Linked DNA regions of Homo sapiens. The protein of the gene in region 1 purifies or fractionates together with the protein of each later gene. This does not show direct contact. Each region holds a gene or a part of one and is shown in the gene's direction. Other genes may lie near its edges. The genes, in order: TEAD4, AMOTL1, DLG3 and PARN.

Region 1 (7,023 bases):
TCCAGCGCGAGTCTCGGGGTCCTGGGACAGGAGCCGCTGGACAGGGGGCTGTGGTGTGCCCCCCAGCAAGGCCCTTCTGATGTGTCATGGCAGGGCACGGTGGGCAGCAGTTGGCCCCAGCTGGGGCAGAGTCTCAGTTCTACCACTTGAGAACTGTGTCCTGGGCAAATATTGGCTTCTCTGTGCCTCTGCTTCTTTGTGTGAATAGTCAGCAGTTTGATCTTGGGGACCTGCCAGGGGCTGTGTCGCTGAAGACCCCGTGTATGTGGCCGGCTGGTACTGAGTGGGGGGCTGTGGCCTGCCCTTGCCCCACCCCTTGCCTGAGCCCTCTGAGTGCCAGCGGCCTGGGCAGGTGAAATCAGAGATGAGGGAGCGCCGGAGGCCAGGGCACCTTGGCGGTCATCTGCTCCCTCCTCCGCATGTGTGGGGCGGGCAGAGGCACCAGAGGAAGACACATATGTGACGGGGAAAGGTACATATTCGTGTTTGCTGACAATGAGACTTTGCGTCAATCGTGGGTCCTCACAGGCTGCCCCGGCTCCCCCCGCATCGGGAAGCTCCTGTCTTCTGCTCCCTGGCCTGGTCCCGCCTTCCCCCTCCATCAGCTGGTGTGAACTTGGCCACACACAGTTAGGAAGGAAAACTGCTCAGGCAAGGAAACGGTGTCGCCTCTCCCGGAGCCTTTCTTTTCCTGCCTGGCTGTTTTCTCAGTCCTGGCTCCCAGGCCCTGAATGTGTGTGCTGGAGAGGCAATCAGAACCCCCTTGGAGTGGGAGGAGGACTTGTCCGTCTCCAGTCCAGCCTCCCTGCCTGTCCCCTGAGTTACTGCTCTTACTGAGGGCGCTGTGGTGGTCATTCATAGACTCTCGGACTGCTGGGACACATTTCCAGCTAGAAGTGGCATCTGCCAGCCTGAAGGGCTGAGGCTGCTAGGGCTGTGCACAGCCTCAGCCCTATCTGCTGAGCGCCACGGGGCCTGGAGCGAGGGACTGATGCGATGAAGCTCCCTTCCTCCCCCAGAGCCCCGCAAGTCCAGCAGAGGCCACCTGTCTCTGGGGCCGGTGAGAGGGGGCCTTTGGTGGCCATTAACGCCGCTCTGCACATTGGAAATGCCAGGCAGAGCCGGGCTGCACCGTGGAGGCAGCAGAGTACCCCAGGCCTTCCTCCCATCTCAGCCTGCTCTTCCCTTTCAGTCCCTGACATTTCTCCCAGGCACATACCAGCACATGACAATGAATCTGAGCCCCTCCAGGCCCCCACACCCGGGCTGCGGCTGTCTCTGCTCATCTGTCAGTCACCCGATCCCCCACACCTGTTCCAGGCACAGCTGCCCACCCGCACGCACAGCTATGAATAGGGCGGAGGGAGGGTTGCAAGGGGGCACTCACAGGGCAGGGGACCGGGGCAGCTCTCATTTTTTCTTAGGCCAAGAAGCGTAGCTTGTTTTGGGTGGTTGCTCAGTGTGGGGGGATATGAGGGTGGACAGGAAATGTCAGGAAGGAGTATAGCTGCAGGAGAAGGGGTGAGGCTGTAATTAGAAGGATCCAGGCACTGAGGACGAGTCGAGGTGCTCTGGGGCGGTTCGTCCGTGTCGCCGGCTGGTGTGTTCCGGGTTTATGCAGTGTGAACATGAGTTCTGGGGCTGATTGTGGGATCTCTCTTTCTCCCCCTGACCCATTGCTCAACCCTAGCACTTGCATTCTATTTGTTCTCCCGATTATAAATTCCCTGAGAGCAGAAACAATGTCTCAACCTCTCTGGGCCCCCCTGCCTCTAGCACTGCTGGCCTGGGCTGGACAAATGGGCACCTGAGCGATGGGAAGAGCCAGGGAGTGGGAGCTGATGACAGAAGAGTGTATCTGAGATGGGGGTGGAGCTGGGGCGCAGAACTCTCAGGGTGAGCAGGACAGGGTAGGTTCCTGCTTGCGCCTGAGGGACCTTGCTCTTCCCACTGGTGCCACCCGGAGGTGAGAGGGTGAACAGCCGCCTGCAACCTTGATTGAAGGCCCACCCTACTAAGGCCCTGGGAGAGCTTAGTTCTTGCCTCCAGGGAGCATCGTATCTGGAAGGGGGCAAGGACATCTGGACAGATTATGACAAGCAGGGTAATAGAGGGGGATCTGCCAATTGCTCCTGGGGGCTGGGGGCAGCCGCTGCCTCTGTGTGTCTGGAAGAGCTGGGAGGTGTGGATGCCAGTCCTTCCCAGCTTGGCACACTGGATTCTTCTAAGATGGCACGTGAATATGCATTTTTTTAAATAGTTAAGTAGTTGCCCAGGCTCAGTGGCTCATTCTTGTAATCCCCCCACTTTGGGAAGCTGAGGCAGGAGGATCACTTGAGCCCAGGAGTTCGAGACCAGCCTGGGCAACATGGCGAAGCCCTATCCCTGTGTTTTAAAATAACTTTATTTGAAAATATGGAAAATAGTTATAGGCCAGACGCGGTGGCTCACGCCTATAATCCCAACACTTTGGGAGGCCGAGGCAGGTGGATCACTTGAGGCCAGGAGTTCGTGACCAGCCTGGCCGATATGGTGAAACCCCACCTCTACTAAAAAAAAAAAATACAAAAACTAGCCGAGCGTGGTGGTGGGCACCTGTAATCTCAGCTACTCAGGAGGCTGAGGCAGAAGAATCACTTGAACCCGGCAGGCGAAGGTTGCAGTGAGCTGAGATTGCACCACCACACTCCAGCCCAGGCGACAGAGCGAGATTCCGTCTCAAAAAATAAAATTAAAAAAATAGTTATATAGTTATTTTCATATATATTAGAAAGAATAGAATCCTTGATTTCATGGATTTATTGCTTAGAATGGAATTAAGGAATAAAAGTGAGTTGATTTCAAAGAATCAGGATGTGTCGTAGATGGCACATGAATGTGGCATTGATCAGAGGGACCATGCGCGGTTAAAATCTGAGGGTCACCACCATTGATGCCTGGCCTCACCTCTTGGTGTTCCCCACCATGTCCAGTGCATCCTTCCCAGGCAGCTGGGCTTCCTGCCAGCGGCATTTCAGGCATTGTTCACATTTTTGCCCTGTGCTTCCAGCTACAGAATATGTCCTGAGCACACAAACTGTCCCCCAGGCCCTTTTTAGGAACAGTCTGACAAAGTCAGTCTCCTAGGAGGAGCAGGTGACTTCGAGAAAATAGGAGACAGGCCAGGTGCAGTGGTTCACACCTGCAATCCCAACACTTTGGGAGGCCAAGGTGAGAGGATCACTTGAGGTCAAGAGTTTGAGACCAGCCTAGGAAACAGCGAGACCCTGCCTCTACAAAAAATTTAAAAATTAGCCAGGTGTGGTGGCACATGCCTATAATCCTGGCTACTCAGGAGGCTGAGGTGGGAAGACTGCTTGAATCCAGGAGTTCGAGGCTGCAGTGAGCCGTGATCATACCACTGTACTCCAGCCTGAGTGACAGAACAAGATTCTGTCTTTAACAAAAAAAAAAAAAAAGAAGAAGAAGAAGAAAACAGGAGCCCGAAAGCCTGGGTTCTGGTCCCATTCACCTTATATTTGCCTGTAAGACCTTCGGCCAGTCACAGCCACAGTTAAATCTAGTCCGGCAGAGGCCTCAGCCACCTCTGCCATGCCATCCTGGGCACCCTGCCTACAATGTGTCATCCCCTCCCTCCCAGCATCACAGATGGAGACAGAGTGGGGAGACTGAGGCCAGCTCAGGGGTGGTAGTGGAGGGTGTTTAGGATAAATGCTGCTGTCTGTTTCAGAGGCTGAGCATTGACACGAATGCTTTTTTTCCCTAAAGGCCTCATCAAAGCCGAGGCAGGTGCACTGAACCATATGCCATTCTGTTTCAGCATGAAAACAGCCTTTTTTTCCTCATCATAAACGTAATCCACCCTCATTCTGCTCCGTAGCCTGCTTTCCCACTCAGTGTGTTTGTAGTCATCCATGATAATAAATGCAGGTCCTTCTCAGCGTTTTTTTGTGGCTACATAATGTTTCTATTGTGCTATAGACAATCAACACCCACCGCCAGTCTAGAGAAAGGTCCTGCTCTGGGAAAACTTCTCCAAAGGAGAGAAAAATAACGATTGAGTGTCCCCTCATGGCCAGTAGTAGAATTGCTTGGTGCCTGGCTCTGAATCTGACCAAAACCTTCCTGGGGTTCTAGGGATCCCCTTATCTTTGCACAGAAGAGTCCTTGGTGTCAGAACCTTGACCAAGGCCTGACGCTTTACTGCATTCGTAGGGCTGCGCTCTGGGCACAGCTTGCAGTGATTTCAGACCGGGGTGTGGGTGGGAGGAGCGGCCTCCCCTGAGAATAAGCCTTTGTAATGTGCCTGTGCGTTGTTTCTGAGTCTTGACTTGTTCTCTTAGCACCCCTGGCTCAGATGGGGTGATTTGATGTGGGGCTGGAGTTCTGGGCATGGGGACCCCTAAGGCGTAGGGCTTCAGGAATACAATTCCTGCCTCAGAGTCCCCAAAGCACCAAATTGTCTCATCTGGTGCCTTCCTTTCTTCGCTGTGGCACTCTGCTGGTTTGGGACAAGTATTGGGGTTGGAGGCTGAAGACCTGGGGTCTTTCACTTACTAGTTGGATGGTGTTGGGCAAGGCTAACAGTCAGGACCCCTCATGGATAAAACCGAGGCCGTGGTTTTGGGTGTGAGATCAGCACAGAGTCTTACTCCGCCTTTTCTAGAAGGGAAGTTTCAGATCAGCCCCACATCCAGCAGGAGGCCCCCTGGGCTCTGTTTTCATCAGGGGAAGGAAGAGCAGCCTGTCTGAGGCAAGGTGAGAAGCTGACCTAGAGGACCAGTGTCTGGGCCTGTGAAGGGCCTTGTGAGCCAGGCCGGGGACCAAGACTCCTGTCCCTTGTGGCTAAATGGCTCAATGAGACGGTGAAGTGACTTGACTTCTGAAGAGATTCCCGGGGCAGTTAAGAGAATGAACCAAAGGGAGGGACAGCTGGTGCTGGGGAGATTGCTCTGGAGGCTGAAGCAGAGATGTCAAAAGATCCAAGGTGACGGGACCCAGCAGTGCCTAGAGGGGGAAGAGGCCAGCCCCAGAGCCGTTTCTGAGGGAGCATCGATCAGGTCTCTGGCGAGACAAGAGGATGAGACAGGAGCAGCATTCACCCCTTCCACCCTCCCCACTGCCGGTCTCTTGCCCTGGTTTTCTGTTCTCATGCTTCCTGCACTATCAAAATTGACTCTGGAATAATTCTGATAGACGCATTCAAACTAAAATAGAGCTGACTGGTAGAGATTCAAACCTTTGCAGTTTAACAAGAACAAAGTCTTAGACTATGAAACTTGAAATCTTAAAGATGGAATCTGGGGCTCCCACCTGCTGGGTGTGTTAATATCTGGGCAGGCAGCAGTGGCCTGAAACTGTGTGGGTCCCAGTGTCCTCTTTTCCCATGATTTAGGCAACACGACCTGATTTTGTACCAGGCAGAGATGTAGAGGAATGTGGAAGCTTTCTGGCGTCCTACTGTCTACCCTCAGTCTGATTTCTTCCCAGCCCTAGAGCCGGGACCGGGACCCTGAGGTCTCCTTGATGCTCCCGTCTGACATGGCACCTGCTGACACTCCCTCGCCTTCCCACTGTCTCCCTCCAGGCAGACCTCAACACCAACATCGAGGATGAAGGCAGCTCCTTCTATGGGGTCTCCAGCCAGTATGAGAGCCCCGAGAACATGATCATCACCTGCTCCACGAAGGTCTGCTCTTTCGGCAAGCAGGTGGTGGAGAAAGTTGAGGTAGGAGGCCACCCTGGCGGGTGAGGGCCGGTGGCAGTGGTCTGTGTTTGCTGGGCATGGCTTCCATTTGCTTTCAGGAGGAATGCCCTCCGTTAGGGAGCCAGGATAATCCCTTGTTGCCTTCCCTGTCTGCTGTCAGTGCTGTGTGCCTCCCACACTCCCCTTGGCACCAGTGTCCTGCCCAGCTAACCAGAGCCATTGCTGCCCTTTCAGGATCTTCCAAGCACGTCCTTGCAGGCACCCCCGGTCCTCTCCAAGAGCAGAGCCGCAGCACAGGCAGAGCCCTGGGCATCTACCTAGTCCAGCCCTCTGGCTTCACAGTGGAGGCCCAGAGAGAGCGGAGGCCTCCCACCAATCGCCCGCACATGGTCACACAGCTCATTAGTGCAGAAGCAGGGCTAAGATCTCTGTCCCCTGCTCACTTTGAACTCCATGAATGCCTAAAACTGTTCCTTCCCTGATTTTCTGCTTATGGGTACCCTGGAGACCCTGCTCTAATGGAAGTTACAGAAAATTCAGGCCTGCCTTTTATGGTTTCTCCCACTCTGCTAAACCCCCGGCCAAGGGCAGTGCAGGGCAGTGGTGAGGAGCATAAGCGCAGGTGAATCCCCACCCAGGCACCCTGCTTTCCGGTGCGTGTCTGGGGGGTTGTGATAAAATCCTCTGTATTTTGGCCCTAAACAAGGGCCAAGTTATCTTCACTGTCCGTGACACGGTCTCCTGCAGCACCCTGTGTTCTGGGCCCGCTGCGTAGTGGCAGTGACAAGGAGCTGGGACTGAAGGCCTCCAACCCAAAGCACCTGTGGACTCTGAGAGTCCGGGGCCCTGTGCCGCCCACACACTTGTTAAACCTCCTCACCGTGCAGGCCAGTCTTCGTCCCTCTCCTCACCCCTTCCCCAGATTGGTCTGAATTAATGAAGTCCTACTCTCACAGTCTGTCAGTTATTGATAGCCTTCCTCATGCCAAATGCAGCCAGATGCCCGGCCAGCACCAGGGAGGAGACATTACTCCACACAGTGCTTCTCCGCCTGGCTGCACCTTGCAGTCTCCTGGGAGCTTTGGAAACACACCAGTGCCTGAAACCCATTCATCACCCCTCAGTCTCTAGGGTAGAGTCCAGGCATTAGTGGTTTTTAAAAAGTTCCTCAAATTATTTATTTCTAATTAAACTTGTAAAACTTTTGAGATAATGGTGGATCCACTTGGGCTCATAATCCCATGTGCGCTTTACCCAGCTCTTGCCCTGGCCATATCTTGCATAACTAGAGTGTAAAGTGGACAACCAGGAAATTG
Region 2 (7,695 bases), on another chromosome or scaffold:
AAGAAAATGTTATTAAGAAAATCACAAGGCAGAGATGATCATCATAAAAGTCTTCATCCTTGTCATCTTCACATTGAGTAGGCTGAGGAGGAGGAAGAAGGGGGTGGGTTGGGCTTGCTGGTTCAGGGTGGCAGAGGTGGAGGAAGATCTGTGTGTAAGTTGACCTGCACTGTTCAAACCTGTGTTGTGCAAGGGTCTGCTGTATTGCCATTGTAAAACAGAGAACTGAAAGAAAAGGTTGGAAAAAAACTTCTCACCTGGTGATTATATAGGGGTTTATTAACTCTGGGGTTGATGTGACCATTTGATGTTTATAAAAAGAAGAAATTAAAAGAAAAGGTGTTTAGAAGCATGGCAGCGTATGCTTTCCTTCCTTGTGTCCATGCCTTTGCTCGAAATATCCTCCTCTCAGCACCTGGATTTCTTGGAACTTGCCCGTTTTTTTCCTGTGCATCATTCCTCTATGCTCCCATAATGCTTTGTGTCTAATCTCTAGTGTGTTCACCATCATTTTTTATCTTTAGCATACTACACTCTGATGTAGTAAATACTTCTGAAAGTGAATTGCAGGAGCACTGACTAACCCCAGTGAGCCAGCTGGAAACCTCAATGTGCTAGGAGTCATTTCGAGTGGATTCTAGGACTGCACCTTTAGAGATTCAGAAATTTGGAGGTGGAACATGAGGAGTTTAAATTTTTACATGCTTTGGTTTCATAAGTTACACTTCAGAAAGTGCTTGAAATTGAACTTAAAAAATATCCTTACTTGTTCTAGGAGCAAAACAAGCATTTTGATCAAAGCAGCCTGGGTGCATCAAATCATTGGTTTGTTCATTCAACAGTCATTAATGGAGAACTACCAGTTGTAGCGATGGTCCCAGGTGAGGCTGTGTGTAGTAGCTGTTCCTTACGTAGTCATGTTCATCCACTCTTCTTTTGCTGTTTGGCTTCTCTGTCTTTGCAAGCCCAAGCCCATTCTTAGGGCCCATTCAGTGAAAGTATTAGCTGGTAAAGACTTTAAATGTTTGTCAAGAAGGGGTGCTGAGAAAAGTGAGAGGAGAAAGACATTTGCATTTTAATAGAGTATTTAAATTCCTTGGTATTTCAAATTACTGGAGAAGAGGAGGGTTTCTAACTTTTACTGAATTCCTAGATGTGCCCAGCACTTGACCTGTATTATCTCATTTAACCCTTGCAATAAGTTTATGAGGCAAATGTTATTATTTTATAGAGGAGGAAGCTGAGGCTCTCCGTGTCTAGAAATAGATAGAACATGGACTAGAAGCAGGTCTTACTGTAAAGGCCCTGCTCATTCTCCTCTATCCAGATGCCTCTGTTACTTCAACATTCTTCCCGCCTCTATGCTTGTTGGGAACAGCTTGGTATCACTGGAACATCCTGGTACTCGTCCTGTTTTGAGTGAAAGACTGCTCTCTGGGCTGCCCCAAAGAGCACTAAAATTGGCCCATCATCTTCTTAGCTTTCTTAGGAATGAGTAAATGACAACTTGGGTCACTTTAGAAAGGATGCTGACCTTTAGGATGAGTGCATAGATCTAAAGAAGGCACAGATGTGGACTGGTTCACTACCTTGCTGTTAGTGAAGGTGTGTTCAATTTTTATTGTAAACATACTTTGTTTCCATTAGACACAAACCAGACATCAGAATCTCCAGCCAAGTGTGCTTACTGAAAGATGTTATTGATAACTTCTTGCTAGTGAAATTCAGAGTCTTTTTTTGCAGGCCTTAGTTCCTGAACAATAGATTCAGGAACTAAGTTAAGGCCTGAAAAGATTGTTTTCTGCATTTGATGTAGAGCTTATTCACAGATAAGGAAATTAAGGCACAGGAGGGAAACATTGGTCTCCAGCAGTGTTTTCTGCCTGTGCTTCCATGTATCTGATTACTGGGTATTAATTTGAGGAGTCTAGGCTAGGTCCACCTGATTGAATCAGAAGATCCTTGAACCCACAAGCTGTGCCTAGCACTTCATTGCAGGTCTAAGAATCTGTAGCATTTGATAGAAGGACCCACTTCTTAAAACTTCCTCTGGCTTCCATGCCTTTACCTTTTCCCAGCTCTTCTACTTCTCCAGATTCTTCCTCTTCTCCCTCCTTCTTTCCCTGTTTTCCAGTTGTGGACATTCTGTTAATGAACTGATCTTCAAAGCTTCATCTCTCCTTTTCTCTACACCTCTGTCCTCCACTTCTCACCCAGTCCCTTGTTCCTTGTTTCCTCTTGCCCAGAGGATAGTAAGTCACTCAGCATCTTTCTCAAACCGTTTCCTCTTCTCAACTGTGCTTCATCTGTCATTGGTCTAATGATCCATTCTTCTAAGACTGCAAGATCTATTCTTCCTATGACTGGGCTCAAAGCCTAGGTTAACTTGATTACTTTGTCCTTTTCCCCAGGATAAACAACGAGTCAATGAGAAGAATAAAATCTTGCTTCAAAGATTTGATACCTTTCTTTATGACATCTGGTATCTCCAAAGATATGGTATCTCTCATTTCCTTTTTATCACCTCTGTCAACCTCACCTATCATTGCTTCCTGCAACTATCCTAGATAGTCTCTTGAAATAATAATAGCAAATGTATATTGAATACTACATGCATTGTGCTGAGTATTTTACATTTGTTATTTTATTCAGTCTTCACAACCACTCTGTGAGATGCTATTTTCTTCATCTTGCCAAAAAGGATACTGAGGTTTAGAGAAGTTAGGCAACTTGCTCAGCGTCACACAGATACTGAATGGTGGAGCTGCAACTCAGCTCATGCCTGTTTTGTTCTAAACTTGATGGTTGTAACTTGGAAATTTTGCTGCTTCCTAGACTATAGGATGGTATCTAGGAGTGGGCAATTAGTAAAGATTAGTTTCCTTTCTTCTTTTTCTATCCATCACTTCTTCCCCAATTTGTATTAAATTCGCGCAAATGTTAGGTGAATCAGTGGTCCCTTCACTGTCCATAAGATAACCACTTCAGCTCCTAATTTGCGATTCAGGGTTCACAATGTGTAATACAAGGCACATTGAGGCAGAGGTTGTTTCTATACCTGGCTTTGCTACTAAACTTGTTCTGTAACATTGGACAAGTCATTCAACAGCTATGCCTGAGCTTCTTCATCCGGCAAGTGAAAGGTTTAGTTGACACTTTCTTAGATTCTTTCCAGGCCTACATTTTTGTGACGTTGTTATTCTGCCTTCCCTTGTTTTCTCCTCGTTTCTGGTAAAAACGCTTTCCTCTATGCCTTCTTCCCAAGCACCCAGACCTTGTCATCTCCCTCTTGGCTTTTGCCTCTGCTTGCCCAGTGCTGCCTTTTCCTCTTTCTGCTGTGTCTGAACTCCACCACCCTCCCAGGCTTTTCCTTCTGTGTAGTCAGTGCCTCTCTCCGCCCTTCCCAGGCATCTGCAGTACTTGGATCTCCTGCTTTGTTGCTTGCCTGTTTTCTGTTCACACATCTTGTCTTCTTAGACAGATAACAGATCCTTGAAGGGCTGGTCAGCTGCTCTAAGTTTCTTTTGTGTGCTAAGTTTCTTTTGTGTGTACCAGGGTAGATGACTTTAAATGGAGTAGGCATTTCATAAATAATTGTTAAATGATTACATTTGGGCTTTATCTTGAGAGCAGAGTTTACTCAGTAGGAGGGCCCATCAGGGGAATCAGAATCAGGACATGCAACCCACCAGAACTGATGAGAGGTAAAACTGCTGGCAGTCTAGTTAGGGAACTGCCACAATCCAGGGAGGAGTCCCTGAAGGCCGGACCTAGATAGCAGGTAAACAGAGGCAGGGAGCACCAGATAAGAGAGGCTTGGTGTGCGCTAACTCTCCCACTAACATCCTGGGCAGCAACTGTACAGTTACCTAGCTTTCTCTTCTCCAAGCAGTAGAGCTGCCCGGAAAAAGCCAGGCAGAAGTGCTATGGGGCAGGCTCGGGCACCCCAGATTAGGGCTCCAGAGAGCCGCCAGTATAAACCAATATAATGAGGTGGATGAGTAGTTCTCAGCACAGCCTGATTTTAAGAGGTGGGGCAACATTTTCCCAGAGTCGCTTACTTTCTTTACCTCTACTCAGGCAGATAACAGCCTGGGGATTTATGGCCAGAGGATGTACGGTTCTGCGAACACATTTAATATCCGAGGCTGTCAGGTCTGTTTTGGCCCTTCTGTTTGTCAACGGAGCACATAGTAGCAGCTTATCGCCCAATCTCAAGTGCGTGATGGAAGCACTGGGGCCTGGGGAATGCTGAGAAAAGTGTGGCCACTTTCTACCTGGAAATTCCACTTAAGAAGAAAAAAAACCAACCTAAGCAAATCTAGACTTTTGGGCAGATCCGGAAACAGAATTTTGGCCGGCATTGGGCTGGTGGGGAAGGAAGACAAAGTGGAGGGAGAACTGGTGAGTCTGAAATTAATCAAAACCCGGCAGGGGACAAAGGAAGGGATGCTGTCGCCCTCCTAAGTCTCAGGGAGACACGTCAGCTTGAGCTCTGGGCAATTTCAGCCTGGCAGTCTCGCGGCCCGGGGAGGGGCGGCGGGTGTCTGCAGACGGGCTCTAGGGCCCAGCGGCCGGGCGCCACGGCGGGGGTGGAGTGTAGGGTTCTAGTGACGAGCCCGGGCGACCCTCCCCGGCCCGCGCGCGGGGAGCGGGGAGCGCGGACGGCGGCGGGAGCGCGCGAGAAGCTCTAGGACCCAGCAGCGGTTGTCGGGTTTGGGGCTGGAGGTGAAGCCCTGTGTGAATGGGGTTGATTGTCCGGCGCCACTTCCCCGCGCTGCCCGGCAGCCGTCTTCCCCAGCCGAGGGACTGAACTAGCCATGATCGCCTCATGTGGAGGGCAAAGTTGCGCCGGGGAACTTGTGAGCCTGCGGTGAAAGGTAACCAGCCCCCACTCGAGGTGCCGGGAGGGCGTCTCCGAGTCTCCCACGCGAAGAACCCAGTCGCCCCGGGCTCCCCGGGCCCCTGCTGCTCACGGAAGGGGGCAGCTTCTGGGGGCCCGGGGCTGAGATCCCAGATTGTTGTTTTTAAGCGGGTTCCCTTGCCCCGCTCCAGGTCCAGTTGCCTGCGGGCCGGGCCTCAGCGTCTTGCCGCCCCGCGACCCACGTTGACTGAAGTTGTGGCCCCGGGGTTTGGGCCCCGGGGTGCTGCGCGCCCGACGCGGGGCTGGCCTTTCCTGAGGGGCGCAGCCATATGGCCAGACACTCCGAGGCGCGCCCGCGCCCGCGCGCGGGTCTCGCGGCGAGGGAGGGGACGGAAGGGGGTGTCCGGTGCAGCTTTCCCCGGCGCGAGACAAAGGCGCGCGCACCGGCCCGCCCGACGGGCTCTGGCGCTGTGGACTGGACCCTTTCTGCCCGCCGGCCAGACCCGGCTCTGGCGGGTGGGGGCGACGAAAGGGTCGCACCCCAGCCCCAGACGCTCGGATCGCGTTAGCTGCTGCTCCTTCTTTGTTCTCTCCCCAGACAAGTTTCTTTGACAAACTGGAGAGTTACATCCAGCTCCCGCTTGCCTGTTAGGGCTGCCTTTACAATAATCTGCTTTCGCGGGGAGAAAATTTAAACTTTCCAAATGGAACTGTTTTTTCTTGGAATGTGACATTTGTGGCAGGAGGGAGAGTGGTACGTTGGCCGATGACAGCCGAGCGGAACGGTGGCCTAGTGCCGGGACAGGGACCGAGCGTGCCCCATAGGCGGCCGGGCTGGAGGACGCGGCGGCAGAGCAGACGAGCCCTGGCGCGCACCTCTAGGGCCTCCGCTACCTGGACTGCGCTCGCGGCGACGTGTCCAAGTTTCCCCCCTCAGAGCCCCAGGCCGAGAATCCCGGGTATCTGCGCAAAGCTCCCGCGCCTCGCCCACCCTACTCTTCCTATCTTTACTGATGACTAGGAAGACTTTCCTTTTCCATTTTTGTTCGAAGATTTTTGCCTTTTTGGCTTCGGTGTTGGTTTCCTGTCTCCGCGTGGCAAATACCTTTTGGCCGGGCTAGCGTGTGGATCACCTGGACTGGGGTTTCAGAGGTGGGCCCTGAGCGTGCGGCCTCCTGAGACGATGCGGTTTGGACCCAACATTTTGTCCCCATGGTCCCTCAGCTCCCTTTCTCTGTGAGGCCTTGGTTTCCCATTTTCTTCTCCTGAGGCATGTTATGAGAACTGAGTTTTTGTACTGCTTATAGAAGGCCTTGGTGGTGGTGGGGTACGTGGTCTCGAGAGCCAGTTGTGATACCTCGAAGATGCTTTCGGCTAACCAAAGCAGTAACGTGCTAACCTGCTCACCATAAACGAATTAAACCAGAATAGAGGGCTATTAATAGCTACAGTTCCAGAAAATTTCCTTCCTTTTCGGGAAGCAAAAAGTCAAGGCTTGAAATATTAAACAATCATGGCTCCCTGCTTCCAAAACTGGCCTATGGGTCACTGCCAAACTGGCTAAGATTTCCCCTGGCTGCATACCACTCCTGGGCCCGGGCAGCTGTGGAAGTCAGACCCAGGTTAACGATTAAGGAGCTCTCTAGATTGCAAGGTCTTAAAGAATCTAGAGCAACTGACATTTACTTCCTAGTAAGGTGCTCTGAGCCTTATAGTGTGTATCTACTTTGAAGGCTCTTTATGAGAATAATGTGGGAACAGTAGTTTAATATACTTTGAACTGTTAGTAAAGGGTGGAAAAGCACTGATTTGACTAGAATGAAGGAAAACACCGATTCGACCAGAATGAAAAGGGTAGGACATAGGTAGAAGGCTTTATACAGGCTCTACTTTTCCTTATGATGGTGGTGGGGGTTGGGGGGAGGGATGAGGATGTTTAGTTCTTGGAGTGCACTTTTGTTTTTCTGTGATGCATTTTTCAAGATAAATAAGGAAACCTTTGTAAACCTGCAGGTGGATAGGAGAGAAGGTGCTGTACCTGTAACGCCCCTTTCCCTCCCCCTTCTTTTTAAAATGCACAGAAGTCTTGGTCTTTCAGGTTCTTTGCAGATGATGGAGGATGTAGCATACTAATTTTCCAAAGGGCATGTGGAGATCAAAGCATTTAAAAATACATCTTTTCACGGAGGCTAATGGAGGATTTTCAGTTTAAATGAGATTTTAAAGTGCTGTCGTTAAGAAAAACACATGAATGCAGAAATGTGAGTGATTTTATGGGAAAGCACTCCGCTGATCAGACTTGAGAGTGTCTGCCCTGGGCCAGTTAGTCTAGAGGCTGTTGTGGGTAGAGCTCAGCTTTTCTGATGTCTACCCCTAAGGAAAAGTGTGGACCCAGGGCCTAGGGAAAAGATGGCTGAACTAATTGAAATGAGCAGTCTGGCTGGTGAGAGTTCTGTTGAAAGGTATAGCCTCTAGGTATCAGTGCTGCATTTCTTCATAGTAATTTGTGAAAATGCTTTGAAAATGATAAAACAAAGACTTTTGAAAAAAATAATTAATGACATGAAATGGGAATTGCTAGTGAAAATTGTAAAAGTTTGATTTTTCAGGCCAATAAATTAAAAAGAAGTAACTTTATAGGACCTGCTAATATTTCTGATATATAAAATTCCCCCAAAGTAACCTTTTCTATTTTCTTTTCTTTTTGGCGGGGTTGGGGGGGGGGTGCGGTGTGTGGCTATCTGCATTTTAAATGCATAAGGAAGCTCAGGTCAGAAAATTCTGCAGTGTTTTGAATAATTTTTCTCCTATTTTTCATTAATTTTGGCAGG
Region 3 (7,023 bases), on another chromosome or scaffold:
TTAGGGCTTTCCTTTCCTGAAGGATTTGCAATTGTATTACCAAGTTTTATTTTTGAGAGCTTATCCACTCTCTGGCCCCACCTTTCTTTTCAGAGACACTGCAGGATCCAATTCTGTAAGTTAAGACCAGCAGCTCCAAACTTTATCAGAATCACACTGATGCTTGTTAAAATGCAGATTCCTGGGCCCCTGCTCAGTAGATTCTGATTCTGTGTATCTGGGATGGGGTGCCAAATCCTGATCTTTTAGAGGCACCCCAACTTGTCAGTGACTGGGGCAAAACCCTTCTTCGGTACTGACTTCTGATTGTGCCCCCTCCCACTTGTTTCTCTGTGATTAGCAACTGGGAAAAAGGAAAGAGGGCGATGACTGGATATCTTTGTGGGTCACAAACAGTTGGGTTCATCTGAATGGGAAAAAACAAAGCAGTTTAGTAGACTTGAGATTTTAGTGTTGCTTCTTTGAAGTGGGCCCTCTGGGTTAGAGGCTGGTCAGGTGGGCTTCCTAGGCGGTGACTTTGGCCTAGGAGATGTCCTCCAGCATTGGCTGCGATGGCTGTGTTAGTGACAAATCAGAGGGAAGGAGGGAGCTTGGCGAGTCCTGAAGTCTTAGAATTGAGATGCTTTTTAAGGGAAGCTTTTGTCCTGGGAAAATGATACCTCTAATATTTAAGATGAGGTAGTATCTAAGTCTATTCTAAACAGTTTTTTGTTAGAATGATTTTTCTTTGTTGTAAAAAGTTGTTAATCAGCCGCCTATTGTGGGTTGTTAACATCTCAAAAGGGTGTTTAAAAATAATAAACCCCAATTGCTCCCAACAATTAACCTTGGGAACAAAAGTAAATGTGAATGCTTCTTAACCACCTTTCTAAGCCCTCAGTGAAGCTGGCAGCCATCAGTTAAATAAACCATTAAGTTTATTAGTTTAAGAATAGAAGTGTCAACTTGGACACAGTTTTCTAATTTGCTCCTCATTTACCCAACAATCATTTATTCAAAGGCTGCTCTGCCTAGTAGACTTTAGATAAATCTACAAATAAAAGCCAGAGACTGATGGGCAGCTGGAACTCTAAGGGAATCATCCAAATGGAAAAAAAAGTGAATAAAACACAATTTAATAAACTTGAAATTTTAGCAGCACATGTAAAAACAAAAAGCGTATGCCTTAGAGCAATAGCTTTGTTCTCTTTCTGTAGTCTATTTTAAGTGGGCCCTCTGGCCCAGAATTATCAGCCTTGGATTAGGAGCTTTGAGGAAATGGTGGTTTCGTGGTTGTTTTTTAAAGGATTTTTAAAGAAATGTAGTTACTAAGCAACTGCCATGACCTGCTGCTAAGTTGGAGTTCAGCGGGCAAGTCGATTCCAAAGAAGGGAATATATAAACAAGTTTCAAGAAGGGGAAAACATGGCTTAAAGATAGATTGGGTGTACTTTTTTGTTCACAGTTCAATGCATAGTTCTTTCTCTCTTTGACTTATCTTCCCCTAAGAAAGGGCTGCCTGGTCAGAAATCTTTGTCTCACACGGTTCTGCCCATAGCCGGTGAGCTCAGAGGAGGGCCAGAAAGGAACAAATGAGAAACAATCCCCACCCAGTGTAGAGGGCCAAGCCCTGGGGTGGGGCCAGCACCCAGGCGGTCTCCAGAGGTAGACTGGCCTGCTGTTATGCTCTAGGACAGTCCAGGGCTTAGGTTGGGGCACCTCATTGATATTGATGGCTTGCCGTGTAACCCTCAGAACAGGAACATTGTCCAGCTGTTGTCTCTCTACCCTCCGCCACCCCACCCCCCGCAACGTTTAATGGGTGAGTCAGTGACTTAACTGCTTCCTCCAGGATTTCAGGAACAGGAGTAGGTAATGAGGACAAATCACCATAACACCGGCGTGTGATGAATGAAAGAGCACACGAATTTAACCCGTTGGTTAAACTGATATCACAGTGAACAAAAGAAACTTTGTTGAGAGGAGGTTATTTGCCTCACTCCATTCCTTCCCCTTTAGGCTTTAGCAATTCCCCTTACACCCAGTTGAAGGTCAGTCTGGTTGCTTTGCAGAGGGAAGGGGAGTGTCAGGTGCTGGAACAGGTGTTTTGTTTTCTCCTGTAGAGTCATACGGACTAGGTGGGGATGCTTCTTGCCAGCCCTCTATGGTGCACGAAATTGCTTTTGTGGAATTTTTTCCCCTGGAAGTGTGTTTGTTTTTTAAAGCAGTTTCCCAACCTTCAACCCCTAGTATAAATTTTGACTCGCTTCAAAGTCAGCTTGTCATAGTGAAGTGTGCCTGTTTTCTAGCATTTCCACGGCCTGTGGCCTTAGATATACCCCATTTTATGCGGCAATTATAGGCCTGGAAAATGTGTAATTGTGTGTTTGGTAAGTGTGAATATTGTATTTTAAATGTCCTAGGAGAATGTCACAGCAAAGCAGCCCTATAAAAAGCCTTTTATAATAATTGTACAGCTAGAGTTAATTTTCTTGTATCAGGTTTTCTTAAATTCGGCATAAACCTGTATTACATTTCCAGAGTGATAAGGCTGTTTCCAGCTGTTGTGATGGTCTCAATGGGCTATAAGGTTAGGGATGGACTTATGACCTCACTGACTGGATGATTTTGGAGGTGAGAGGTGTCAGCCGACTTCTCGGTTTGGGAGAATTTATGTTTTAATGTATGCTACTGAAGCCAAAGAGGCTATTGGTTAAAAGGGAAATAACTCAGGAGAGCTTTAATTCTCCTCATATGGTTGTTACGGTTGTGAGGTTTGTTTGTTTTTACCTCTGTACTGGGTTCCAATATCACCCCCCTTCACCCCAGCCAAAAAGTCATCCTGAAAAAATTGTCTTCTTGCCTAACAATGATATAATTGACCTCAGGTCCTTTCCAGCCCCTCCGCTCTGCGTCTCAGGGCCATCTGTTCTCTGCAATCCGCTTTTTGGGAAAGTCTCCTTTCCCATCTGCTCTCCTTGGGCCTTAGTGTCAGCTCTAAAGATTTATAAAGGTTGCACTGGAACCTCTTTCCAGTTGTTATTTTTATAAAGGATCAGTGACATTTTGAGGCAGATAAGAGCTTTGTGCATTTGACCTGCCCAAATGCTACTCCCTTTTCAGGTGCATTCTTTCCTTCTGTTAGTCTGGGGTTGAAGGGAAGTCTGTCTTTCTGTGCTTAGGAGGAGGGACTTTGCTTATCAAAGCAAAGACTGAGTGGGCTGGCTCTGGCTGCTTTTAAGCCAAGGGGCCTTCTGGCTTTTTGGCTGCTGGCATGCAAGCTCAGAGGCGCTCCTTGAGTTCATTCTTTTCCCATCTTTTCCCTTGTTTCCGTGACAGAATACAGTCGCTTTGAATCGAAGATACATGACTTACGAGAACAAATGATGAACAGCAGCATGAGCTCTGGGTCTGGGTCCCTCCGAACAAGTGAAAAGAGGTCCTTGTATGTCAGGTAAGTTGCCCTTCAGAGCACTAGCCCTTGTGCTGGACGAGGAGAGCTCCATGCCAACCCAGCCCTTCTTATTTAACTAGTGGGCTAGGGAGTATGTACTCCCAGTTCTAAAATAACGCTTCTCACTGTATGCTTAGGTTGTGTATTTTATGGTCAGTGTCTCCTCCCTTTTGTGAGCTGGCTTCTTCCTTTTAGCTCATGAATGACTCAGTATGGGAAAATTTCAGTTTGCTCTAATTGTAAAAGACTGTTGGGTGATTGTTGCTAGTCAGCATTCAAATATCAGTCAAATGTTCAAAGTACTTTGCTTGCAATCTGTGCTTTGAGGGGAAACTTGCCACCCCCCCATCCCCTTCCATGTATGCATAATAGACATCAGGATTTGTATCTGAGCATAGCAACTATCGCAGTGTTCTGGTACAGGATCTCTTTTAAGAGACCAAAGAACTGACAGGTTGCTGCATTCTGGATGTTTTATTGTGATTCCATTCCCCCCTCACCACCCGCTGCACTGGTCTGCTGTATCTATGAATCATGGGATGTATAGTGTATGTGCCCTAGGAAGAGGGAGGGGGTGGAGGGAACAGATAGGTAGCATGGAGTATATTGCTGCTGAAAGCTATTCCAAGATATTTCCAAGGTTGAGCTTCTCTGACCCTTGAGGCATAGCTTAATACTTTGTCAGGTCAAAGTACAAATCTCCTGGGGAGTTGGAGTGCCAAGTGAATACTGTGGACTCCTCATAGAATTAGGGATAGCTTCCTTCTTCCTGCTTTGGCTTCTTGGCAAAACTCCAAAATCTGGTGCCAAGTACATTGTATCCTCCAAGGTTAAAGCCCTTAGAGAAAGGTGGTGGGGATTACTCTCCTGAGCCAGAAGTTGCTACAGTATTGTGTTTAATGCTTAGGTGTGGGGTCATATCAAACTCTTGGGCTGAACTTTTTCTAGTGGCCTCTGATACCTGGCTGGGAAGTTGCACTTGCTAGTTGCTTGGCAACGTGACAACTGCTCTGTCCTTGGGGTGTGAGAGGACAATAGTGAAGGGATGTCAACGCTAATTGCAGTTTTTCTCATGGTGCTTGCTTTTCTTTTTCCCCAGTTGGTGGTCCCTGACTCTACCGCAGGGAGTGGAGCTAAAGGAGCCCATCTCTGAGCCTGAAGCCCACTAGAACCCTTCACAATCTTTCCTAATGTGAACCCTCAACTCCACCCCTTGTGTGTTGAAAGCATGTGCTATGCTTACCTCCCGCTGTGAAGGGAGAATGGTAGGAAGGCGGGACTAGTCACTGGTCATTTTTCCAATTCCCCGGAAAGGAAAGTTTTGTTTTCTGTCACTAAAGCCCTTGCTCCCAGTCTGCAGCCTGGATACTGGGGTGCTGATGGGTGAAATCAGAAATGCACTGTCGACCCCCCAAAATAGGTAATGGTTATATGACTTGGTCAGGATTGTTCCGTTCCGTGCTTCCAGCCCCCGCAGATGTGGCACTCCAGTGTGCGTGGGAAGCTGCTCTTTAGGCAAGACAGTTTCTTTGGAGAGCTTTATTTTTAGATTTCCCCTCTCCGCCTATCCTGTGTTAGAGTTCTCTCTGCCTGGGCAGGGGGAGTGGGACATTGGCTCCCGATATGGAGCACTCTTCCCTGGCTCAGGCAAGGGAATTAAAGGGATACACTTAGCTTAACTCTGGGGCGAGGGTGGAGACCATGACTGTGTCTAGTGAATCAGTTTATATAATCTGCCCGTAACCTTCTCTAGATAAATTATCTGTATCCTCTGAGGAAAGTAGATGTGGTTAGGAAAATAGTAACCATTTGTGATCACTAGATTTAATCAGGGGCACTTAATGTCTTATGGCTAAAGCATTGAGCTGAGGCCCTTTGCTAAGCTAACCCCTTTATCAGAACCTGGCTTACTCTCTTCCCTTTTGTTCCTGATTTTGGCCCTTCACTCTACACTTGGTTCCTTTTCTTCAGCATGTAAACATATTTAAGCTTCTTCCATTCTTAAAAAGAAGAAAATATCCCTTGATACCAATAGTCCCTTAAACTATTGTCTTGTATCCCTTTGCTTACTGCATTTGCCAAATTATTGGCCAGAAAACACTAGCTCCTCAAGATATTACTAAGTATTGTGTGAAAAATCAGTGGTTTAGTAAGTTGGGCAAATGCAGGCTTAAACAGAGGAAAATGGGGCTCTTTCCTGTGATTAATCTCCAGGAAGGACTGTACTAGGCAGTGTTTCCCCAAAAGATAGAGCGTGGGAGCCTTATTTGAGAAACCTATGTCAACATCCAGGTTGGGAAATGTTGGAGTACTTGCTGCTGCTTCAAATCACTTCTCTTTCACTAGCCCGAAAGGAAGCGTGCATCTGCTTTTCAGTGTGGTAGTGTGGCTCTGAACAGCTCTGGAAAGCTCCAGGGGAGCAGAAACCTGACTCTCTGTCAGGGATCAGTGGGTGACTTCTTAGTCTTCAAATTTAGTGACTGGTTCACTGGTTCTCTGACATTGTTCTGACCTCTTCACCACATTTGTTTCCATGAATTACCTGCTTTCTTCTTTAAAGGCTCTCTTTCTACCCTGCTTACCATTCCTTAATACCTTTCATTAGCTCTGCCCCCCTAAATGGCAATGTCATTTATTTTCACAGCTTCAAATCCTGCCGTATAAATGACATTCCTGATCTCTTTACTGAACTACAGACCTGCATATCTACTACTTGCTGGACATGTGCATAAATAAAACTGCCCTCTCAGCGCCTCAAACAAGCGGCATGTACTTTCCTTATCTAAGTTAATTGCCTCACCCTATCATGTGGAAAAGGGATTAGATTTGTTCTGTCACCCAAGGCAGATCTCTGCTCAACATAAGGAAGGAAGAGCTAATGATTAAAACTGTCTGAAAATGGAATGGACTGCTTCCGGATATAGTAAATTCGATCTTTAGTCACTCAAGGTGTTACAGAAGAGGCTGGGCAACCATTTGCCTGGGTATTGCAGAGGGGGTTGAAACTAAAGCAATAATCTGAACATGATCTGCTCAAAAGCTTTCACTAGTTCCTCAGTGTCTTCAAGATAAAGGGGAACAAACATTTAGGGAACACATTGTTCATCAAGACCTTTGTTATTCTCTTTAAATGGCTTTTAATATCCCTTTAATAATCCTACAGAGTAGATATTATGATTCCCATTTTGCAGATGAGAAAACTGAGACTCCAGTTAGATAGCTAAGAAGTTCAAAAACTGGAACTTGAACTTGGTTGCTCTGACTATAAAGTGTGGTTCTTTCAGTGTTTCCCCAACTTCCTCATAGGAATCAGCTGGAATGCTAGTAAAAATACAGATTCCCAGGCTCCTTTTCTAGTGCTTTGGATTCATCAGGTTTGGGAAAATACATGTGTGGTGTTTTTTTTTTTTTTTTTTTTTTTGACGGAGTCTCGCTCTGTCGCCCAGGCTGGAGTGGAGTGCAGTGGCGCGATATAGGCTCACTACAAGCTCCGCCTCCTGGGTTCACGCCATTCTGCCTCAGCCTCCCGAGTAGCTGGGACTACAGGCGCCTGCCACCACACCCGGCTGATTTTTTGTATTTTTAGTAGA
Region 4 (7,023 bases), on another chromosome or scaffold:
TGGAGTGGAATGGTGCAATCTTGACTCACCGCAACCTCTGCCTCCCAGGTTCAAGCGATTCTCCTGCCTCAGCCTCCAGAGTAGCTGGGATTACAGGCATGTGCCACCACGCCCGGCTAATTTTGTATTTTTAGTAGAGACAGGGTTTCTCCATGTTGGTCAGGCTGGTCTTGAACTCACGACCTCAGGTGATCTGCCCGCCTTGGCCTCCCAAAGTTCTGGGATTACAGGCGTGAGCCACCGCGCCCCGTCCCCATGGATTTTAATACCACCCGTGTCCCAATGATAACTAAATGTATATCTCAACACCTTTCTCTTGAGCTATAGGCTTGTAACTGCAGCTTTTAATTTGTGTATTCCCTTAGATGATTTAACATGTCCGTGGTAGGGCGCGGTGGCTCACGCCTGTAATCTCAGCACTTTTAGAGGCTGAGATGGGCAGATGACCTGAGGTCAGGAGTTCAAGATCAGCCTGGCCAACATGTTGAAACCTTGTCTCTACTAAAATACAAAAATTAGCTGGGTATGGTGGCGGGCGCCTGTAATCCCAGCAACTTGGGAGGCTGAGGCGGGAGAATTGCCTGAACCCGAGAGGTGGCGGTTGCAGTGAGCCGAGATCGTGCCATTGCACTCCAGCCTGGGTGACAGAGCAAGACTTCGTTCTAAAAAGAAAAAAAAGAAAAAAAAATAGTATGTCCAAAAGGTAGCTTTTGATTTTCACTCCTTGGACCCCGATACCTATTTTTCCCCTCATTGTCTTCACATCAGTTAGTGGCCCTACCATCTTCCCAATCGCTTGAACCAAATAGCAAGGTGTTTTTTTTATTTTTATTTTTATTTTTTTTTGAGACAGTGTCACACCGTCGCCAGGCTGAAGTGCGGTGGCACGATCTCGGCTCACTGTAACCTCTGCCTCCTGTGTTCAAGTGATTCTCCTGCCTTAGCCTCCCAAGTAGCTGGGACTACAGGCACACACCACCATGCCCAGCTAATTTTTGTATTTTTAGTAGAGACGGGGTTTCACCATGTTGGCCAGGCTGGTCTCCATCTTTTGAACTTGTGATCCGCCCGCCTCGGCCTCTCAAAGTGGTTGGATTATAGGCGTGAGCCACCATGCCCGGCCGCAAGGTGTTACTCTTGATTTTGCCTTTCCCTTTATCCTTCATCTCCAGGATATCAGTAAGTGTTACGTCTTATGTCTAGAAAATCACTGTCTCCTTCTACCCTGCCATCTCTACACCAGGGTTACAAACAAGAGCCCACTGCTGGCTCCTTGTTTTGTAAATAAGATTTGTTGGACTACAGCTATGCCCGTACATGTACATTTTGTGTATGGCTGCTTTTGTGCCACAACAGCAGGGTTGAGTATTGCGACAGAGACCCCCATTGCCCACAAGCCTAAAACATTTGCCATCGAGCCCTTTAAGAAAGAGTTTGCTGGCCGTGCGCGGTGGCCGTGGCTCCCGCCTGTAATCCCAGCACTTTGGAAGGCTGAGGCAGGCGGTGAGGTCTGGAGTTCGAAACCAGCCTGGCCAACATAGCGAAACCCTGTCTCTACCGAAAATACAAAAATTAGCCTGGTGTGATGGTGCACGCTTGTAATTCCAGCTACTCGGGAGGCTGAGACAGAAGAATTGCTTGAACCTGGGAGGCAGAGGTTGCAGTGAGCTCATATTGTGCCATTGCATGCCAGCCTGGGTGACAGAGTAAGACTGTCTCACAACAAAACAAAACAAAGAAAAAGTTTGCTGACCTCTGATCTGAGCTCTTGTCTCTTGCCTGGACAATTGCTCCTGACTTGTTTCCTAACTTCACTCTCAGAGTAGTCATCATGGCCTTTGAAACATTATGCAGGTAAGGTAATTATCTTGCTTAAAATCTTCTAATGTTGTCCAGCCACTGTTAGAATAATGTACATTTCTTACACTGGCCTGTGAGGGCCTGCAGAATCTTGCTCCATACTCTCTCCAATGTGATGCTGTACCATTCCATTTTTGCTCATGACATCTGGCCACACCAGCTCCTTGCTGCTCCTGGAACCGTCCAAGCCATTTCCATGTTCTGGGTATTAATACTTGTTTCCCCTACCCGAAGGACTCTTCCCCTAGCTCCTTTCGTATCCGACTTATTCTCATCCTTTGGGTTTTCCCTGACTTTCCTGATTTTCTTGTCAGAAGTAGTTCCCTTCACTACAGAGCAGGATGCATCAGCTTGTCACTGTTCATTCCCCAGTGCCTAATATAATGCTTTGGCACAGCATAAGTGCCAGATAAATATTTCTTGAAAGAAGACTGAATGAATGGATGAATGATAAACACATTTCAAAATCATTTGCCTTTCTGTTCATTTTTTGAGATGTAGTTAAATATGGTAAATCTTTCCTGAGTAATTTAGACTCTTTGGTTTGTTAAACAAATTTTATGTTAGACAGTTACTTCTGCTAATGCATTCTTTTTAAAATCGTGTTTAGGAATTCCATATTTAAATCAGGAAGAAGAAAGACAGTTAAGAGAGCAGTATGATGAAAAACGTTCACAGGCGAATGGTGCAGGAGCTCTGTCCTATGTATCTCCTAACACTTCAAAATGTCCTGTCACGATTCCTGAGGATCAAAAGAAGTTTATTGACCAAGTGGTGTAAGTTCCTAAATTAAAACTAAGCGTGCATTGTGTGCTATATATTGGGGATGACAGGCATCTATATCTCAAACCTGTGCTTTACAAACATAGTACACACACGGGTGTGATGTTGTGAATGGCAGGATATAATTGTGGCATATTAAAAAAAAAATTTTTTTTTTTTTTTTTTTGAGACAGTCTTGCTCTTTTGCCCAGGCTGGAGTGCATTGGTGCAATCCTGGCTTACTGCAACCTCTGCCTCCTAGGTTCAAGCAATTCTTGTGCCTCAGCCTCCAGAGTAGCTGGGATTATAGGCGTGCACCACCACACCCGCCTAATTTTTATATTTTTAGTAGAGACGAGGTTTTGCCATGTTGGCCACGCTGGTCTCGAACTCCTGGCCTCAAGTGATCTGCCCGCCTCAGCCTCTCAAAGTGTTGAGATTACAGGCATGAGCCAGCATGCCTAGCCGGCATATTCAAATTAGTGTAACAGCAACAAATTGTAAATAGAGTTCCATGTATTGTACTTGGACTTGCTACATGTCACTAGGCAAGAGATTTCAGTACGTGGTCAGACCTGCGTGGATTTTTTATTTTATTTTATTTTTTTTAATAGAGACGGATCTCACTATGTTTCCCAGGCTGGTGTCAAACTCCTGAGCTCAAGGGATCTTCCTGCCTCAGCCTCCCAGAGCGCTGGGATTACAGGCGTGAGCCATTGTCCAGCCCCTTTTCTTGTTTTTTAAATGCTAATCAGCTGACTTCTAAAACTTGCATGGACTGAATACCTGACAGCCACTGTCCAATGTCCTTGAAGGCAGAGGAGTGGATCAGGCTTATCCAGCCTGTAGCATGTCCATGTTCTCTTTGCTTGCAGTAAAGGTGCCGACAAGCAGATGTGATTTTGGACAAGTGTCTGGTCTTGCTCAGCTTAGTTGTTGGTGTAACCATTTTACTGGGAAAGTCAAAAATTAAATCACTTGTATTGACGAGTCCTTGAGAAGTTGTCACTAATAAATAGCAGCAGTAACCCTCTTCCCCCCAAAATACGCCAAATAAAGCTTTTTTATTTTATGTTATTTATTTTTTGAGACAGGGTCTCGTTCTGTTGCCAAGGCTGGAGTGCAGTGATGCGATCACAGCTCACTGCAGCCTCAACTTCCTGGGCTCAGGTGATCCTCCCACCTCCGCTTCTGGAGTAGCTGGGACCACAGTTACACTGCACCACTCCCAGCTAATTTTTAAGATTTATTTTTTGTAGTGAGGGGCTCTCAGTATATTGCCCAGGCTGGTCGCGAACTCCTGGGCTCAAGTGATCCACCCAACGTCGACCTCCCAAAGTGCTGGGATTCTATGCCTAGGTCAAAATAAAGCATTTTTAAAAAAGTCTTTGAACTAAAATTTCTAGGGTAATTTGGTAGAATTACATTGTCACATGTTCTTATAGTTAGACTGTTTTTGGTTGTGATTATTTTCTTGGTTGATGACTTCATTCCTTAAAGGTACTGATGGTTATGGTCTATTCTTATTCCTCAGAGAGAAAATAGAGGATTTATTACAAAGTGAAGAAAACAAGAACTTGGATTTAGAGCCATGTACCGGGTTAGTTGTCCTGAACATTTCTGCATGTCCTTTTTTTGGAAAGGTAGATGGTTTGTGGCATTTGATGCATCTAGTCTTTTAAAAACAGCTTTATAAAGGGTCTTTTTATTATTGCTATGTTCTCAAGAATTAAACACTAACTTTAGCGTTACACAGTGGGGATGACTGTGTATACTGAGACACTGAATGAATGCTTTGTCCTGTACTTGGAGCGGAGAAAACTGTTGTGCAACCTTGACTTTCAGTTATGCCCAAGAGTGGCATAATTAATTTGGCCTTGAGGCGCGCTTAATACGTGAAGGCTTCAGAAGAAAGAATTCACTTTCAGGCTACTTCCACCCTTTTAATTTCTCTCTGTATTCAGAGAACATTAGCATTTCAAAGAGTCAGTAACGTGATTGTCTTTTTTTCCTTTTACTTTGTGAGGAGTTTCACAAAAGTATTTCAATGCATCTGTCTACTTTAAGCTCTCTTTATGCAGCTGCAGGAAGCAATATTTTGATTAGACGAGAACTTCTACCTCTTCAGTAAAAGCAGCATAATATTAAAGAAAATTTTAGAAGACAAGTGATGAGGAAATCCCCCCACCTCAAAAAACCTGCGTATTTTTGTTTGCAAATTACCTATCAGTTCTAATGAAGTCTCTTTTTAAAGCGAAATCCTTCTCAACAAATGCTTGATCAGTTTGGATTTACTTCTAATGAGCCAAAATCAATACCTTTTCTTTTGTTTTTATAGGTTCCAAAGAAAACTAATTTATCAGACTTTGAGCTGGAAGTAAGTATTTATATTGTATGCAGCAGCTCTGTGGGGGACCCAGGATTTAAAGACTAAATATAATCTCTTAGTTCTCATTTCCTTTTTGAAATTCTGCGGTTCTCAGTGATTTGACTACATGAAGTTCCCCCTACTTTCTTAAGTTGAATACTCACTTAATTTTCTTTTGTTATTGTTTTTTAACAGATGCTTTAAGGCTTCTTAAAATAATTATCACTTTGGTGCATCTGTTAAGCTATGGATTGGTAGTGTTTTTGTCCTTTGGGGTATACAATAAATATTTGGTTTTCAGACCTAGGAAATACTCAGATGAATGCTTTTGGTAAAGCAAGAGTTCTTAACTTAGGGTGAGACTATGGATGGGTTTCAGGAGGTCTGTGAATCCCCTGAAATAACATCCAGACTTTTGTGTGTGTATTTTTCCAAGGATGTTTCCCTTGGTTTCCTTGTGTTTGCAGGTGGGTCTTCAACTCAGAAATTGAACATTGACATAGACAGGTGGACATTTCCATTTGACTTTGGGGACCTTGTTCTTCTGTTGGAATCTACCAGTGACATGTATACTGGGAATATACTTTGAACACAACAGGAAAGGGCTGTTTAGTTTGCCCACACTCCTTTCCTGTCATGTCGTCCTTGCAGCCTACTCCACCTGCATTCCAGATCCCTCTCCTCCTTGGCTGATGCAAGCTGTTAATACCATGCAAAACTACAGCAGAGCTGGCCATCTAAAACCTCCTCTTTATATGCCCTGTGCAATCTAAAAAGACTCAGGCCGGGCGCGGTGGCTCACTCCTGTAATCCTGGTACTTTGGGAGGCCGAGGTGGGCAGATCACCTGAGGTCAGGAGTTCAAGACCAGCCTGGCCAACATGGTGAAACCCCGTCTCTACTACAAATACAAAATTTAGCCGGACATGGTGGCACATGCCTGTAATCCCAGCTACTTGGGAGGCAAAGGCAGGAGCATCTCTTGAACCCTGGAGGCAGAGGTGCAGTGAGCCAAGATTGCGGCTTGGCACTCCAGCCTGAGTGGCAGAGTGAGACTCCATCTCAAAAAAATAAATAAATAAATAAAATAAAAAGACTTTCACAATTTCAGTTAGGAAACATTTTTATATTTGGAAGCAAGATTTGACTCTGTGGTAATGAGTTGACTGTATTTTGAGATGTAGGACATTTTAGAAAGTGCCTAAGTCCTGGTCAGGCGCAGTGGCTCACACCTGTAATCCCAATACTTTGGGAGGCCCAGGCGGGAGGATCACGAGGTCAGGACATCGAGACCATCCTGGCTAACACGGTGAAACCCCGTTTCTACTAAAAATACAAAAAATTAGCTGGGTGTGGTGGCAGGTGCCTATAGTCCCAGCTACTTGGGAAGCTGAGGCAGGAGAATGGCGTGAACCAGGGAGGTGGAGCTTGCAGTGAGCCGAGATCGCGCCACTGCCCTCCAGCCTGGGCGACAGAGAGAGACTCTTGTCTCAAAAAAAAAAAAAAAAATAGAAAATACCTAAGTCCTAAAAAAAATTAATTTGAAGTCAAATCCACGTTTATGTGTTTAAGAGCAAGGGTAAGGAAACATTTAGCAGCTGAAACGTTATAAAATAAATGTGCTGTAAAGTCTCCATTGTAGTGATAATTATTTTGTAGTTAATAAAACTTACTTAATTAGTAGCTGGATAGTTGCTTATAAAATACTTTGGGATTTAGCTGTCATTGACTCATCTACTGATACTATGTTTTTCTTTTCTTTAGGTATCCGAAAGGCATTCATGTTGAGACTTTAGAAACTGAAAAGGTAACCCCAAGAATTATCTAGGGCTAACATTAAACACATCCATTGTTACACTGTTAGGGGTTTCTTTTTTTTTTCTTTTTTTTTTTCCCTCAGGGTCTTTCTCTGATTACCCAGGCTGGAGTGCAGTGGTTAGTCACGGCTCACTGCAGCCTTGACTTCCTGGGCTCAGGTGATCCTCCTACATCAGCCTCCCAAGCTGGGACTACAGGCTCGTGCCACCATGCTTG

The links.
Region 2: the proteins of TEAD4 (region 1) and AMOTL1 purify together in Homo sapiens (affinity purification with mass spectrometry; 2 studies listed by BioGRID and IntAct, with this or other methods). This does not show direct contact.
Region 3: the proteins of TEAD4 (region 1) and DLG3 purify together in Homo sapiens (affinity purification with mass spectrometry; 3 studies listed by BioGRID and IntAct, with this or other methods). This does not show direct contact.
Region 4: the proteins of TEAD4 (region 1) and PARN purify together in Homo sapiens (affinity purification with mass spectrometry; 3 studies listed by BioGRID and IntAct, with this or other methods). This does not show direct contact.

The regions. Positions count from the first base shown.
Region 1 is NC_000012.12:3,032,381-3,039,403, forward strand, and holds part of TEAD4 (transcriptional enhancer factor TEF-3), read left to right. Parts: intron 1-5,587; coding exon 5,588-5,728; intron 5,729-7,023. UniProt on the Homo sapiens protein: Transcription factor which plays a key role in the Hippo signaling pathway, a pathway involved in organ size control and tumor suppression by restricting proliferation and promoting apoptosis.
Region 2 is NC_000011.10:94,763,681-94,771,375, forward strand, and holds the start of AMOTL1 (angiomotin-like protein 1), read left to right. Parts: upstream 1-4,675; 5' UTR 4,676-4,831; coding exon 4,832-4,880; intron 4,881-7,695. UniProt on the Homo sapiens protein: Inhibits the Wnt/beta-catenin signaling pathway, probably by recruiting CTNNB1 to recycling endosomes and hence preventing its translocation to the nucleus.
Region 3 is NC_000023.11:70,475,832-70,482,854, forward strand, and holds part of DLG3 (disks large homolog 3), read left to right. Parts: exon of another isoform or gene 1-1,797; coding exon of another isoform or gene 1,798-1,801; intron 1,802-3,318; coding exon 3,319-3,433; intron 3,434-7,023. UniProt on the Homo sapiens protein: Required for learning most likely through its role in synaptic plasticity following NMDA receptor signaling.
Region 4 is NC_000016.10:14,606,257-14,613,279, reverse strand, and holds part of PARN (poly(A)-specific ribonuclease PARN), read left to right. Parts: intron 1-2,470; coding exon 2,471-2,636; intron 2,637-4,156; coding exon 4,157-4,222; intron 4,223-4,960; coding exon 4,961-4,999; intron 5,000-6,753; coding exon 6,754-6,796; intron 6,797-7,023. UniProt on the Homo sapiens protein: 3'-exoribonuclease that has a preference for poly(A) tails of mRNAs, thereby efficiently degrading poly(A) tails.